Homo sapiens: one gene and its partner. The protein of the gene in region 1 purifies or fractionates together with the protein of each later gene. This does not show direct contact. Each region holds a gene or a part of one and is shown in the gene's direction. Other genes may lie near its edges.

Region 1 (7,960 bases):
ATCTATGCAATTAAATATTAATTCATCAAACACTTCAAATGTAAGCAATTAATAATTAGTGAATGAAAAATACATAATACATCAATTAGAAAAAAACTCTATTAAAAAGACATTTGTGTGATAAAAGAGATTGCCATTTTTGTATTTTTCTACAAAGTTAAAGAAAACTAAGTCAGCTTATATAAGTGAATTTTAAAAGCCTTTAGGCCAGGCATGGTGGTTCATGCCTGTAATCCCAGCACTTTGGGAGGCCAAGGTAGGCAGATCACCTGAAGTCAGGAGTTCGAGACCAGCTTGGCCAACATAGTGAAACCCATCTCTACCAAAAATACAAAAATTAGCCAGGCGTGGTGGCAGGTGCCTGTAGTTCCAGCTACTAGGGAGGCTGAGGCAGGAGAATTGCTTGAACCCGGGAGACGGAGATTGCAGTGAGCCGAGATGGTACCACTGCACTCCAGCCTGGGCAACAGAGTGAGACTCCATCTCAGGAAAAAAAAAAAAGGGCATATATATCCATTATTTCACTGGGCCTTCACACAGCCCTGCTAGTCAACCCTCGAGAATTGAGGAATCAGAGAACTTAGGAACAAGAACATGACCTGGGACTTCTTATGTAAGTGAGAATCTTAGGCTAAATTGTCTTGCGGTAAATGCCTTTCCCATCCTCAGAAGTCTATAGTGAGCAGAAAGCAGTAACAGCATCCTCCCTTCCACTCTTCCCTTCAGGCTGAACACATCCCTGTCCCTACAGCCTTTGCAGAGACACAGGTGACAGAGCACTCAATATAGAATCCCTGGGCTCACACTGGCTTTCCTACAGACACAGGGGATCCATGAGGCCCACAGTGACATACACATGTACACAAGGATGCACGTACTGACACTGATGAGCCCTGGAAGTCAACACAGAGTGGCATACAGAAGAACACATGCAGGCACACACACAGCCACAACTGGACCTGCGAGGTCTACAGCCCCACAAATGAAAAGAGGTGCATACCATCTCACAACAAACTAGAACTTTGAGAGAACCACACACACACACAGGTCTACAAATTCACCTGAACAAGACGCCGTCCATAGTCACTGGCGTAAGGCATCTACTCACTATCACACAGAACACACTCAGGCAAGCAGACATAGATGATACATCCACAATCTACAGAGATGAACTGCAGAGTTACATGCACAGATATGCCAGTCATACATTCAGATCTGTGTAAACAGTGAGGCACACACACACATACACATGTGCACTTATACAGAAAGACTCAGACCCAGCCAGGCATGGTGGCTCAGGCCTGTAATCCTAGCACTTTGGGAGGTCGAGGCGGGTGGATCACGAGGTCAAGAGATTGAGACCATCCTGGCTAACATGGTGAAACCCCATCTCTACTAAAATTACAAAAAAATTAGCCGGGTGTGATGGCGGGCACCTGTAGTCCCAGCTACTCAGAAGGCAGAGATTGCAGTGAGCTGAGATTGCGCCACTGCACTCCAGCCTGGACAACAGAGCGCGACTCCATCTCAAAAACAAAAAAAGAAAGACTCAGACCTGACCTGTTAGTCAACAGCCAGATGCCAACAGATAATCACATTAGACTCATCAGCAAGCACACCGTGCACACAAGTTCCACTCCCATGTACAGGTTCCTGTCCCATGTACACAAGCCTGCACACAAACACGTATCCAGACTCCAGAACTGTTGAGACAGTGCCCACATACACACTCATAGAGTCACCTGTGCACAGGTGCACGTACACATTGTTTCACAGAGGCACACCAGGACAGAAACACATAAGAAATGTGAGGCAAAAGCGGACCCACACCTACACCTGTAAGATACACAGAGAAACAAACACATACACAAACTTACACATAGACTCATGCACTGTGTAATCAACAGTTCTATACCCCACCAAGGCTCTTGTCCTGGTGTGTCCAGAATTGGTGGGTTCTTGGTTTCACTGACTTCAAGAATGAAGCCACAGACCCTCGTGGTGAGTGTCACAGTTCTTAAACGCAGCGTGCGCGGAGTTTCTTCCTTCTGGTGCGTTCGTGGTCTCGCTAGCTTCAGAAGTGAAGCTACAGACCTTCGCAGTGTTAACAGCTCATAAAGGCAGCGTGGACCCAAAGAGCTAGACACAAAAGTTCTCCACGTCCCCACTAGATTAGCTAGATACAGAGTGTCCACTGGTGCATTCACAAACCCTGAGCTAGACACAGAGTGCTGATTGGTGCATTTACAAACCTTGGGCTAGATACAGAGTGCCAATTGGTGTATTTACAATCCCTTAGCTAGACATAAAGGTTCTCCAAGTCCCCACCAGAGTAGCTAGATACAGTGTTGATTGATGCATTCACAAACCCTGAGCTAGACACAGAGTGCTGATTGGTGTGTTTACAAACCTTGAGCTAGATACAGAGTGCCGATTGGTGTATTTTCAACCCCTTAGCTAGACATAAAGGTTCTCCAAGTCCCCAGCAGAGTAGCTAGATACAGTGTCGATTGATGCATTCACAAACCCTGAGCTAGACACAGGGTGCTGATTGGTGTGTTTACAAACCTTAAGCTAGACACAGAGTGCCCACTGGTGTATTTACAATCCCTTAGCTAGACATAAAGGTTCTCCAAGTCCCCACCAGACTCAGAAGCCCAGCTGGCTTCACCCAGTGGATCCCGCACCGGGGCCGCAGGTGGAGCTGCCTTCCAGTCCCGCGCCGTGCGCCCGCACTCCTCAGCCCTTGGGTGGTCGATGGGACTGGGCGCCGTGGAGCAGGGGGCGGCGCTTGTCGGGGAGGCTTGGGCCGCGCAGGAGCCCACGGCGGTGGGTAGGCTCAGGCATGGCGGGCTGCAGGTCCCGAGCCCTGCCCCGCGGGGAGGCAACGAAGGCCCGGCGAGAAGTCGAGCACAGCAGCTGCTGGCCCAGGTGCTAAGCCCCTCACTGCCCGGGTCCGGCTGGCAGCTCCGAGTGCGGGGCCCGCTGAGCCCACGCCCACCCGGAACTCGTGCTGGCCCGCAAGCGCTGCGCGCAGTCCCGGTTCCCGCCCGCGCCTCTCCCTCCACACCTCTCGGCAAGCTGAGGGAGCCGGCTCCGGCCGCAGCCAGCCCAGGAAGGGGCTCCCACAGTGCAGCGGTGGGCTGAAGGGCTCCTCAAGCGCGGCCAGAGTGGGCGCCAAGGCCGACTAGGCGCCGAGAGCGAGCAAGGGCTGTGAGGACTGCCAGCACGCTGTCCCCTCTCACTGGGTTGCTATTAAAAATGGGCGCTGAATATAAAAATTAACCGGGCGTGGTGGTGCATGTCTGTAAGTCCCAGCTACTCCGGAGGCTGAGGTGGGAGAATAGTTTGAGCCCGAGAGACTGAGGCTACGGTGAGCCGTGATTGTGCAACTGCACTCCAGCCTGGGCGACAGAGTGAGACCCAGTCTCAAAACAAAATCAAACACGGGCGCTGCCCTGGGCAGGGGAGGTCTGGGCACAGCTGTGCTGATGTGGGCAGTGGACAGGTGTCACGTGAGAGCCTGTGGCCAAGCCTAAGCTGCGGTTAAGGTGGGAGGCTGAAGGGTTTGGAGTGTGCACCACCCCGGACCACCTCTCAGTAGGAATGTGGCAATGCACTTCGGTGCTGGATTCCTACTTCTGGCTGTGTGATTTGCGACACGTTACCCCACGCACCTGTACCACAACTTCCTCATCTCCCAAATGGGATGACAGTAGTTAGCAAACCTCCCTGGACTGCTGTGAGCATTCTGCCAGAAAAATGTACTCCAAGCTCTTGAAGTAGGCCTGGCGTTTGGTTGGTGCTCAGTACATATTCAATGTTTCTGTCGCTGGCGTCATCACTGTGTTCATGGCAGAGCTCTGTGCCGCCAGGACTGGGCCGCCACCCAGACCTTCCTTTCCCGCCCCAGGGGTGAACTGTGGACAGGACCCTCTGGGGGGACTAGGCCAAGGCTCTCCCACCTCTGGGGACCCGCGCCCATGGGCCTCAGATATGTGGCTCGAGAAGGGGGAGTGGGGGCAGGGCCCCTGGAAAACCCCTCGAGGCCAGACCCACCACTCCCAATATCCGTAAGACCAGGGGCTTGAGTCTTTCCTGCAGACAGATGTGGGCAGGAACCCACCCGACTCCCAGCTACGTGGGGACGTGGACGAACTAACAGGACAAATTCTAGTTCCTGGACACCGCCCTCCCAGTATCCTCGCAATTAGACACCCATGCAGCGGCACTACACTGATCCGCACACGGAGATACACAGCGACATCCGCCCGCAAGAGCATGGTGGGTGCCGGAGCTCCCGGCTGTGGGCCCAGGAACTACATTTCCTAGAAGGATGTGCTAGATACTCGTTCGCGTCGGGACGCAAGCACCGGCCCGAACTCGCTCTAGGAAATGGAGTCTGACGCCTGCGCGGCGCAAACGCTCCCGGGAGGTGTAGTTTGCGCCTATTTCGCGCAGGCGCGCTTTCCCGCAGCGGCCGCCTGCTGCTCTTTGTGGCAGTCGCAGTCCTTTTGTGGGAGTCCGGTCTGTCCACTTGCCGGTCCCTCAGACCGTCGGCGGTCTCTGTCCGCTTCGGGACCTGTCCGCTGGTCGCTCCGCGTCCGATGGCTCCTGGCCGCGGAACCTTAGGCCTGGCCCTGGTCTCCGAGCGCGGGTTCGCCGGGAGGAGCGTGTGGCGGGGGTGTGCCGGGGCGTGAGTGCGCCGAGCATGGGGCTGAGCCTGGTGTGGGGAGTGGGTATCTGCGGAGCCGGCCTGAACCCCACCTCAGCCGGGCGCGGGGAGGGGGCTCCGTGCGTGTGATCGTGCAGCTGTGAGCGCGTGGCCGCCCCGCGGGGCTCCGCTGCAGGCCCCTCAGCCCCAGGAGCAGTACTCGCTCTTCAGGGCCTGCCCTGGATCCTGGAGGCTACACAGCTGCCCACTCCTCCTGGGGAGGCTGCCGTGGAGGCCATGGAGATCCCTGCCCCGGAGCCCGAGAAGACAGGTACAGCTTCACTCTTGTAGTCAGTATGTCTGTGGATTTGCACTTGAGGATATTGACACTCAGAGAGATCAGGCCAGTTTCCCAGAAGCATCCAGCATCTTTTTTTTTTTTTTTAAATGGAATCTCACTCTGTCACCCAGGCGGGAGTGGTGCAATGGCTTGATCTCCGCTCACTGCAACCTCTGCTTCCCGGGTTCAAACTATTCTCCCGCCTCAACCTCCCAAGTAGTTGGGATTGCAGGCGCGCGCCACCACGCCCGGCTAATGTTTGTATTTTTAGTAGAGACGGGGTTTTGCCATGTTTCCCAGGCTGGTCTTAAGCTCAAGCGATCCGCCCGCCTCGGCCTCCCAAAGTGCTGGGATTACAGGCGTGAGCCATCGCTCCTGGCCTCCTGCTTCTTTCTTCCCCGCGCCCAATCATTTGTTCCCACTCAGACGTGCTTGATTGGGGGTAGCAGCTCTTTTCGTCATGAATTGGAGTGTCTGAGACACAGGCAGATTATTCCTCGATGCTGTTTCTGTTGGTGCTAGCTACTGGGGCTCGTTCCCCACCTGGCCTTGCTGGCAGGTTCTGCCTCCTCTCTGATTCTCACTTGTGCCACGACAGGTGGGCTTTAAGCTCAGCCGTGAGCCTGGTAGCCGTGACCTTGACTCATTTCTCCTTCGCCAGCTCTTTCCTCTCAGGATCCTGCTCTTTCCCTGAAAGAGAATCTCGAGGATATATCGGGTTGGGGTCTTCCCGAAGCCAGGTCCAAGGTGAGTGGCTGTGTGTTCTTCCTTCTTTATGAAGAGGGTTGGCACATTCCCTCCCCAGCCCTGGATCGTCAGCCTTCCACAGACCTTCACCCGGGTACCTGCTGGCCAGTCCTCAGGAAGCTCTGGGCAGTGGGAACAGCTCCAAGTGAAGAGTCCAGATGTTGCCCGAGGTGTGCCCTCGAGATGTGCTCTATTGAATGTCTCGCCCAGTCCAATTCAGTGGGTCAGTTGCTGGGGATCTCTCTGCCCAGCGCTGTGCTGGGAGCTCTGAGGAGTGGTTTTAGTGGAATCTGAGAAAGTAGTTGACGGCTCACATGGGGTCGCTTTGCCTATCCACGTGCTGGCCAGGGGTTGGTGCAGGATGTTTGCACGGTTGGTTTACTGGGACTGGAATCAGACAGGGGCACGTGGAGCAGCTCAGGAAGGGCTGGATTGCAGCACTTGGTTAAGAGTGGCGGTAGGGGACACATCCCTGTGTGCTTTCCTCTGTACCCAGCCCCTGGCATGGGGCCTTCATGGAGAGTCCTGGAGATTTAGAGAATCTGGGGGCTCAGCAAGGAATTGGCCCTGGGAACTTCTGCAGCCAAATGGGACCCAGATCCCTCCTTTTACAGACTGTGAACTCTGTTCCTCATTTTGTTTTTCTACCGCAACCACCTCACCCCATGGTTGTATTTAGAAGGGTGCAGTTGACAAAGAGAGCACAGTAGAGTGAAAGATGTGGAGGAATAAGGGGTCTTTGGGTTTTTGTTTTTTTTTTAGCATTTTGTGATTTTGTCAGTCTGCCACTCAAAAGAGGTGATGGCAGATTATAGCCAGCTAGAAACAGCTGCAAAACGTGTATTGTGAGCTGTGCCTCACTTCTGTAGTGTGTCACAATGCTTTATAGTCCTCAAGAAACTTGACAGTCAAATGCAATGCATGTTCCTTGCTTAGGGGATAGATCCAAAAAAATTGATAAAGGGCAGTTTGGGACAAGAGGAAATTTGAAAATGGGCTGTATCTTAGGTCATATTGTATCAATATGAAATTTATTGCATGTGATAATAGTACTGTGATTATGTAAGAGAATATCCACAGGAGATACAAGCTGAAGACTGTAGAGTGAGACATCATGATGTCTGCAACTTACCTTCAAATGGTTCAGCAAAAAAAAATGTGTGTGCATGTATGTATGTCTGTATGTGTCTGTGCAGCTCCGTCTAGGTGGTAGGGCCCTCATGCATGTGTTATTCCTATTCCTAAAATATTAGCTTGTTAGATCTTTGAATAACCAGTTGACTCTCCTGAGTACACATCAGCTTTGGCATTTTCTCTTGACAGTCTCATTCTCACTCACAGTTCAAGTTGTTCTGTCTCCTGGGACATCTTGTGTGGTCTGTTCTGACTTCTCTGCTAGTGTCATTACCACATCAGCATCTGATTCCAATGCATACTGTCTGGGTTTTTTATTCCTTTCCCTGCAGAATGATGACACATTAGACATGGACTTCTCCCAGTGGCCAGAAATACCCATCAAAAAGGCCTGTGCGGGCCTCAGACCCTACCCTACTCTTGCTGGTTTTGCTCCCCACACTGAAGCCATGTAGCCTCTGACAGCCTCACTGGCCAACACCATATTCTGATACCTGTGGAGCTATTTTTTTGTTTTTCTTTCTTTTTCTTTTTTTTTTTTTGAGACAGAGTCTTGCTCTGTCGCCCAGGCTGGAGTGCAGTGGCACAATCATAGCTCACTGCAGCCTTCAACTCCTGGGCTCAAGCAAATCCCCCACCTCGGCCTCCTAAGTAGTTGGGACCAACGTGTGTGCCCCCACACCTGGCTTGGAGCCTTGTTTCAGCCCATTTTCTCCTTCCCTCGGCTATCGTCATCCTTCATGCCTGCATGCCTCAGTTAGGGGTGTGTTCTCAGCATTTGTCCTCATCTCTACCTCCTCATCTGAAATCCAGTGTTTTGGGGGGTAAGGTTTTATTGAGGTGTAATTTATATACAGCACAGTTGTACAATTTTAAGTATACAATTTGATGAGGTTGAGCAAACGTATACAGTTGTGTAACCAGCACCACAATCATGATATGGGACGTTTCCATGACCCAAAAATGTCCTCATGCCCCTGTGCATTCAGTGGTCTCCCCTCTCCCCTTGGTAACCACTATAGTTTTGCTGTAGATTTTCCTCTTTAAGGATTTCATATGGAATTTATATTATGTGGTCTTTTGTC
Region 2 (7,590 bases), on another chromosome or scaffold:
CTCTCCCCAACTTCCAGTGCTTTCAGTCTTCCTAAAAAGCACTACTCATCCGGGCGCGGTGGCTCATGCCTGTAATCCTAGCACTTTGGGATTCTGAGACAGGTGGATCACATGAGCTCAGGAGTTTGAGACTAGCCTGGCCAACATGGTGAAACCCCATCTCTACTAAAAATATAAAAAATTAGGCAGGTGTGGTGGTGGGTGCCTGTAATCCCAGCTACTTAGGAGGCTGAGGCAAGAGAATCACTTGAACCTTGGAGGCCGAGGTTGCAGTGAGCCGAGATGGTGCCATTGCACTCCAGCCTAGGCAATAAGAGCGAAACTCCATCTCAAAGGAAAAACAAACAAACAAACAAAAAGCACTACTCACCTAATAACTCAAACCAAGTTACCTTTCAATCCAACATCTTCCTTAATTCCTATTCCCATATGATTTTTTACCAAACTTGGATAGAGGTTATCTCCTAATAGCACTGAACACTTCCTAACTCCCTCCACCCCTTTTGCTACCACCCTGGCTCAAAGCAACAGTGATTGCCTCCTTGTTGCTCTTCATGTCCTGTTCTGGTTTTGCTCCAAATGCCCACAGAGCAGTCTCTAAAAAAACAAAATTCTGCTCACAGATCTGGTTTAAACACCCCAAATGGTTTACACTCCACTTGGAATAAAATCCAATTCTTTAATAAGAACTTTCATGATTGGGCACTTGTGTATGTTTTCATTCATTCTCTCTCTCCCTCTCACTCTCTCTCCTGCTTTTTGATTCCTTAAATATGCCATGCTTATTTCCACTTACAGATCTTCAAAGTGTTGTTTTCTTCTATCTCTCGGCTAAAGCCTTGTCCTGTTTAGTGCTCAATCTTCAGTGCCTAAGAAGAGTGAGTGGCAAATAGTAGATACTTACTTAGTAAATACTGGTTAAATGAATGGGTTGATTAATGAATGAATGAAGGAAGGAGATGATATATCCATCTATCTCATAGCAGGGATTAAAATGGTTAAATACTCCATGTTTATGAGAATGTAGGTTTAGGATTATTGTTAAGAATTATTTTTAAGGTTTCTTATAGAGACAATTAGGGTATAGCTATCAAAAATTAGACTAGGAAGTAGACTGAAAATTAATGTGACGAATGACCAATTTGTGACACACCCAGTTACCCAAAATCAACTCAGTTCACCTAAATTCAATACAGCAATCTCAATTATTGAGGATATTTTCCTGAAAGTTTTATTTTTTTGGATCTCTGCCAGATCCAGTTGCCTAAATTTTTGGAATGTCAGTTTTATGTGTGGTTCACATTTTAATTGCTATTTCTCTACACTTGATCTTGTATTTGGGAATGGCAGATTCTTCCTTTATTATAGTTAACTGTGTTGTGGTTGTGGGGAGATATGCATCCTGCTTTCACGCCCACATTCGCCTCTACACCTGCTTCCACCAATGGCCACTGAACAGTTTTGGCCAATGTCCTAGATCTGGTTTAGGAAAATGGACCGACGATTTCCCACAGATGAATATTTAGTGATTTGCTCAAGGTCACCACAGCATGTCGGTAGCTGGAAAAGAATAGAGATCTCATAACTCAGGTTCTTTAATTTTTAAGACTCAAACTTATTAAAAACATATTAATTGCACAATGTCATTTAAGATAGAAAGGAGGCAAGGGATATACCTAATAAAAGTAATATGACAGCTCTCACTATGTAAATTCTTGTCTGCTTCAAAATTGTCCTAAATTAGGTATAAAACTGGCTTTTTAAATAGCAAATGTATTAGAAAATCAGAATATTTGAATTTTAGAGTTAGACATTAACAGTTCGGGAAAAATACAAATGGCTGCTGAATGCAGTTATTTATTACTAGCTCTGCTATGAAACCCTAAAGGATACCTTTCTGTCACTCCTATTTTGCTGCTATTTGTATCCGCTTTGAAAAAATATTTCCATTCAGATTTTGAGTTCTCGGTGGGTATCTTTCGCCTTTACCTTTTGCTTGTCACTTGGAATTAAAAGGAATGTGTATTAGAAAGTAAATAGAAATGCAAATGGTAAGTTGAGTAGGAGAAAACAGTTGAAGGTTGTTTATTTTTGTTTTCTTAAGAAATGAAACAGCTGGTTATTTATTTCTAACATGCTAATCAAATAAATAGAACTCATTCTTCCTTCACATCCCCTGACTGGGGTTAATAACCAATGGGCTTTAGGGATTCTATTAGCTGTGCTATAAATGATTCAGTTAGCCAAGTTATACAAAACTGGCACATTCCCCCACACCAGAAAATGCACGTTTCCTTCCTGTTGTGTTTTGGGGTCCCTCTGCAAAATCACCAAGATCCAAGCCAAACTCAGACTAAACAGAGAACCTTTTGAAAAAAAGGCAGTTGTGGTAAATTAAATTGCACAGCTATGAGATCAAATGATTTTATCATCATTCTCAAAAGAACCCACTCAGCGCAGCCATGAATGAATCTTTCTTGCTGGAAAATACATCCATCTTCATTGTAAAAATCAGTCAAGGTGAAACGTAGGAGGCATTTTCTTCTCTGGGACATTCACCACTTGTGTTTCCTCATCTCAGGCTTTGATAAAATAGAGTCCAGAGCCAAAGGTGGCATGAAGACCCTAACACTTCAGGACTCTCAAGCAAGAAGAATGGGAGCAATAGAAAGGGGAGTGAAGAGAAATAGGAAATAAGATGCTCATTCCTTTAGTTTACATCCTTCTGCCTGTTTTACCAGTCTCTGGTAAAGAATATACAATGTACTTAGTATTAGAATATACTATGTCTAGGCGATAGACTAATTTATAACTGGATAGAATAGGTTTCTGACCAATAGGTTTAAAAAAAAAGAGTTTTTATTTCTCTTTTAGGACAATTTGGCTTGAAAATGTTAAGAAAGAAAAAGAGCACTTTTGCTTCACTTCTCAGCCTGAATTTTCCATGCCCATGGTGGTTTCTTTTTCCAAACTGTTCCTTAACATTTACTAGCATCTGAACTTCCATTCCCGATTCCAGGGCACTTCGAGCCATCCAAGATATCCAAAGAGAGACCCCAAAGTTGTTAAATATGAAAACTGACATTCAGCTGGGTGTAGGTGGGGTAAAGTGGACTGTGGGGTATAAAAAGTGTACATGGGAAGGGAAAAGTGAGGTGTAGAGAACAGACTGTGAGCTGGAGGATTCGGAATCTACTGTCGTTCTAGTGATCGCTGACCAGGAGACCTTGGCAAGTCACCTACTTTCTTTGTAAAAAGGTTTTGCAGTCCGGAAGTGAGGATTATAATAATTTGGTCTTCCAGTGTGGTGAGGTGAGGAATGACCTGTGTAACTGTGGCTGTGACGTTGACGTTTGGGCACTCAGCAACCTGGAGGAACACACGTATTGGCTCTTGTCTTCCAGATCACTACATGCAGGTGCTTGTTTGTCAGCATGAATGTGTGAGGGAACTTGCCACCCGCCCTGGCCGCCTCTCTCCCATCGAGAATTTTCTTCCTCTGCACTATGATTACCTACAGTTTGCCTACTATCGAGGTAAAGCGTGGATCATCCGTGAAGACTTCTTGGGGGGTTGTGGTTCATCATTACAGACATCACATTTTTGTAATTGAGTTTTCTGACTTCTTCAGTTTATTATGAAAGCAATAGGAATTTATGCATTTCTTCTCTCCTGAGCTGCAGGACAAGAAGAGCAGAAGGGGATATCACCAATGGGCAAAGTACAAAATTTAATGCTGTGATAATTTACTGAAAATTATACTAGATTGACATTTTGCATGGTTTTTTAGACTTAATTTTTTTAGAACTGAATTTAAAAGGAACTTTGCAAAATCCTCTTCCTTTCCAAAAACAAAACATTATTTATTATCCTGGCGTTGATGGCACACAGTGAATCACGTGCTCAAGTCATAAACAGTGAATCAAAGATGAGAGAGTTGCTTAATTTTTATCATTCCTTTTAAAAATCAGAGTCATCTCAGAGTATATATATATGTGTGTGTGTGTGTGTATGTATTTATTATACACACATACATGCACACACACACATATATATACACACATACGTATATTGTAAATTTCCATTAGAAGAAATACAATGTTGTGAACTATTTGAAAACAAGGCATACAGACATTTAAAATTTCCCTTGTAATAGCTAAATATTTCTATAATGAAAAGTTTATATTGGAAACATCCTTGTTAGTTCCTTTTAGTAGTTTGCTACTGTAGGATGTGCTATAATTGTATAGTGAAGGATTTAAGGGGCTTCCTCCAGAACATCTGGGACTCTATGAAGGACTTTGCATTGAAGTACCAGTTTACCACAAACTGCAGCAATGAAAAATAACATTTTAAAAGCACTTATGTTACTCATACATTATATATAAAATGGTACATTACTGTTGCAAAGATCACCTTCAGGATGTTTACTTAACCCAAACTCGGTACAAAAATCAGAATTAACTCATAGAATTCTGCTGTTTATATGTGTTAAATAATAAAAGTTGTCAACAAACATCTTCAGATAGAAACTTGACGATTTGCACAAAACAACTAGTACCAAAGCAGACCAAAGGTAATAACTTTTGAATACTTGAAATCATGTCTTTCCTTTTATCTGTGACTGTTTCTGCTTTCTCTGCTGAGCCTCAATTTATCTTCCCTCTTATTCATGTTTAATGCTGACCTTTGTAGACACGTTGATGGCCTCCCTTTAAAATCCTTTGGACAGACCTAGGCTGACTCTAATGCTGCAACTCCTTTGTCTTTCAGTTGGTGAGTATGTGAAAGCCCTGGAGTGTGCCAAAGCCTATCTTCTATGCCATCCAGATGATGAGGATGTCCTAGACAATGTGGATTACTATGAGAGTCTGCTGGATGATAGCATTGACCCGGCATCCATTGAGGCCAGAGAGGTGAGACCAATGTTTTGAAAAGAAATTCTTTTTTTTTTTTTTTTTTTAAGACAGAGTTTCGCTCTTGTTGCCCAGGCTGGAGTGCAATGGCACAATCTTGGCTCACCGCAACCTCCGCCTCCCGGGTTCAAGCGATTCTCCTGCCTCAGCCTCCCTAGTAGCTGGGATTACAGGCACATGCCACCACACCCGGCTAATTTTGTATTTTTTTTTTAGTAGAGACGGGGTTTCTCCATGTTGGTCAGGCTGGTCTCGAACTCCCGACCTCAGGTGATCTGCCCGCCTCGTCCTCCCAAAGTGCTGGGATTACAGGCGTGAGCCACCGCGCCTGGCCTGAAAAGAAATTCTTGATTCTGCATGTGTTCGGGGGAGAGTTGATAAAAATATGACACTGGTCTTAAAGATGTCTAACAATTTAGCAAAGGTTGTTGAACTCGGTTCTTTCAAACTTTATTTATGCCTGAAGCACATTTTTATTCATACATGCTAGCGTGTGAAAGTATGTTGAGATGGGGCCAAGTCTTGCAGTTCTGAATATTTGTTAGCTCATTTGTGACTATCTAATGAAAATATTGCCACCTGAACATTTATCATATCTCTTACCTGCTATTTAAATAAAAAATGTCTTTCTTTACTTCTTTTTCTCTAGGATTTAACAATGTTTGTGAAACGTCATAAGCTGGAGTCTGAGCTGATAAAATCAGCTGCAGAAGGTCTGGGGTTTTCATACACTGAACCGGTAAGAGGAAAGAGGAAACGTTTATTAAAATAATGATTCAGTGGAATCCTTTTTATGTTTTTATTACCTGCCTCCATTTTTGCCATTTACCTCAAAAAGCTAAGATTTCGATGCCCTCCTTGAGGTAAAAATTGGGGGTGGGAGATATTTACTCAATATATGTGATGAACTTTATCTATTTATTTATTTATTTATTTTGAGATGGAGTCTCGCTCTTGTCGCCCAGGCTGGAGTGCAGTGGCGTGATCTCGGCTCACTGCAACCTCCGCCTCCTGGATTCAAGCAATTCTCCTGCCTCAGCCTCCCGAGTAGCTGGGATTACAGGCACACGCCACAATGCCCAGCTAATTTTTTTTTGTATTTTTAGTAGAGATGGGGTTTCACCATGTTGGTCAGGCTAGTCTCGGACTCCTGACCTCAGGTGATCCGCCCGCCTCAGCCTCCCCAAGTGCTGGGATTACAGGCTTGAGCCGCCGCACCCGGCCATCTGATGAACTTTAAAAGACTAATGGATTTCCACATCAGTCATTCCATATTAACAAGGTCTAAAGTCAAAAGCAAATCTATTGGGTAAAAGTATTTTGTGTATGACTCATTTGCCCCGGGAGTGTTTTATTTTCCTAAATTCCGGATGTGGTGTTTTAAATTTTTCTATTAATGCTTTTATGTTACCTAAACATTAAAGAGAATTCAAAATATCATCAGTCACAATGCTATCACACCCATCATGCTGACTTCACTCCGCTTTTCCATGTTGTCTTCTAATCATTGTTTATATGAAGACATAGCTTTTGCAGAAACATATACTATGGTATAAAGAGATTTGTATTCTTTTAAGAAGATACCATAAGAAATTTCTACATTTGTATAGCTTTAAAAGGTATTTTTAGCTACATTTTAGTCTCTAAAAAGTTGGTAGAATTTAGAATTTTAGATAGGTAGAATTGACATACAATAAATAAATGAACTCTTCTGCTGAACATTTGAATTATTTCTGATTTTTGAATTATACATAATGTATTAAGCATTTTTTCTCTATTGAATTATGTCCTGAAAATAAATTCTTAAGAGTGGAATTATTCTGTCATCAAAGGATATAAGGTTTTAAACTTCTTGAAACTAAATTGCTTTTCTAAGAGAATTCTCTTAGAAATTATTTATTATTAATTTATTTATAATTATATATAATTATATATGATTACTAAGAGAATAATTCTCTTGGAATTATTTATTTGCACACTATTTTAATACTAACACTATCTCATGTGGGAAGATTTAGTGACTACTCTAAAGTCTCATAGCTCACAACAGATTGAACAGGCATTTGAATCCTAGTAATGCATAAAAGTACCATTTTACCACAAATTTATCAGCGATAAGAAATAACATTTGAAAATCACTTTTATTATTTATATATTATGTATGAAATAATACATCATTTTAACTTGTAATTTTTTTGATGACCAGCAAGAATAAACCTTTTCACATATTAACTATTTTTCCTCTTCTTTTAATTACTTGGGCATGGGTTTTATTCATTTATCCATTGGTTACTATGTAAGTTCTTCAAATGATATACAAGTTAATACATTTATAAAATTATTTATAATATGTCCATTTACAACCTTTTTTCATTTCTTATGCCGTGTTTTTATAGGCACACTTTTTAAAATGGGTTAATTTTAATGTACTATTTCTAATATAACACCTTCTAATATATTAATATTTATATCGGGCCTTACTTATTATTCTTTTAAAATTATGTTATCCAAGAGACCTTAAAATATGTTATTTACTAATTTCATGATCTATACAGATGATTACTAAAGCTCAATTTTGTTTGCTTGTTTTATTCAGCAAACATAAAGAAGTTGAACTGAATGATCTTTCAAATGTTTTTCTGCCACCAAATTCCAAGTCACTTTCTTGGACAAA

Evidence for each region.
Region 2: the proteins of ZNF74 (region 1) and P3H2 purify together in Homo sapiens (co-immunoprecipitation; 2 studies listed by BioGRID and IntAct, with this or other methods). This does not show direct contact.

What each region holds. Positions count from the first base shown.
Region 1 is NC_000022.11:20,389,678-20,397,637, forward strand, and holds the start of ZNF74 (zinc finger protein 74), read left to right. Parts: upstream 1-4,473; 5' UTR 4,474-4,951; coding exon 4,952-4,985; intron 4,986-5,655; coding exon 5,656-5,741; intron 5,742-7,960. UniProt on the Homo sapiens protein: May play a role in RNA metabolism.
Region 2 is NC_000003.12:189,984,853-189,992,442, reverse strand, and holds part of P3H2 (prolyl 3-hydroxylase 2 isoform a precursor), read left to right. Parts: intron 1-3,404; coding exon 3,405-3,536; intron 3,537-4,773; coding exon 4,774-4,916; intron 4,917-5,565; coding exon 5,566-5,655; intron 5,656-7,590. UniProt on the Homo sapiens protein: Prolyl 3-hydroxylase that catalyzes the post-translational formation of 3-hydroxyproline on collagens. Contributes to proline 3-hydroxylation of collagen COL4A1 and COL1A1 in tendons, the eye sclera and in the eye lens capsule.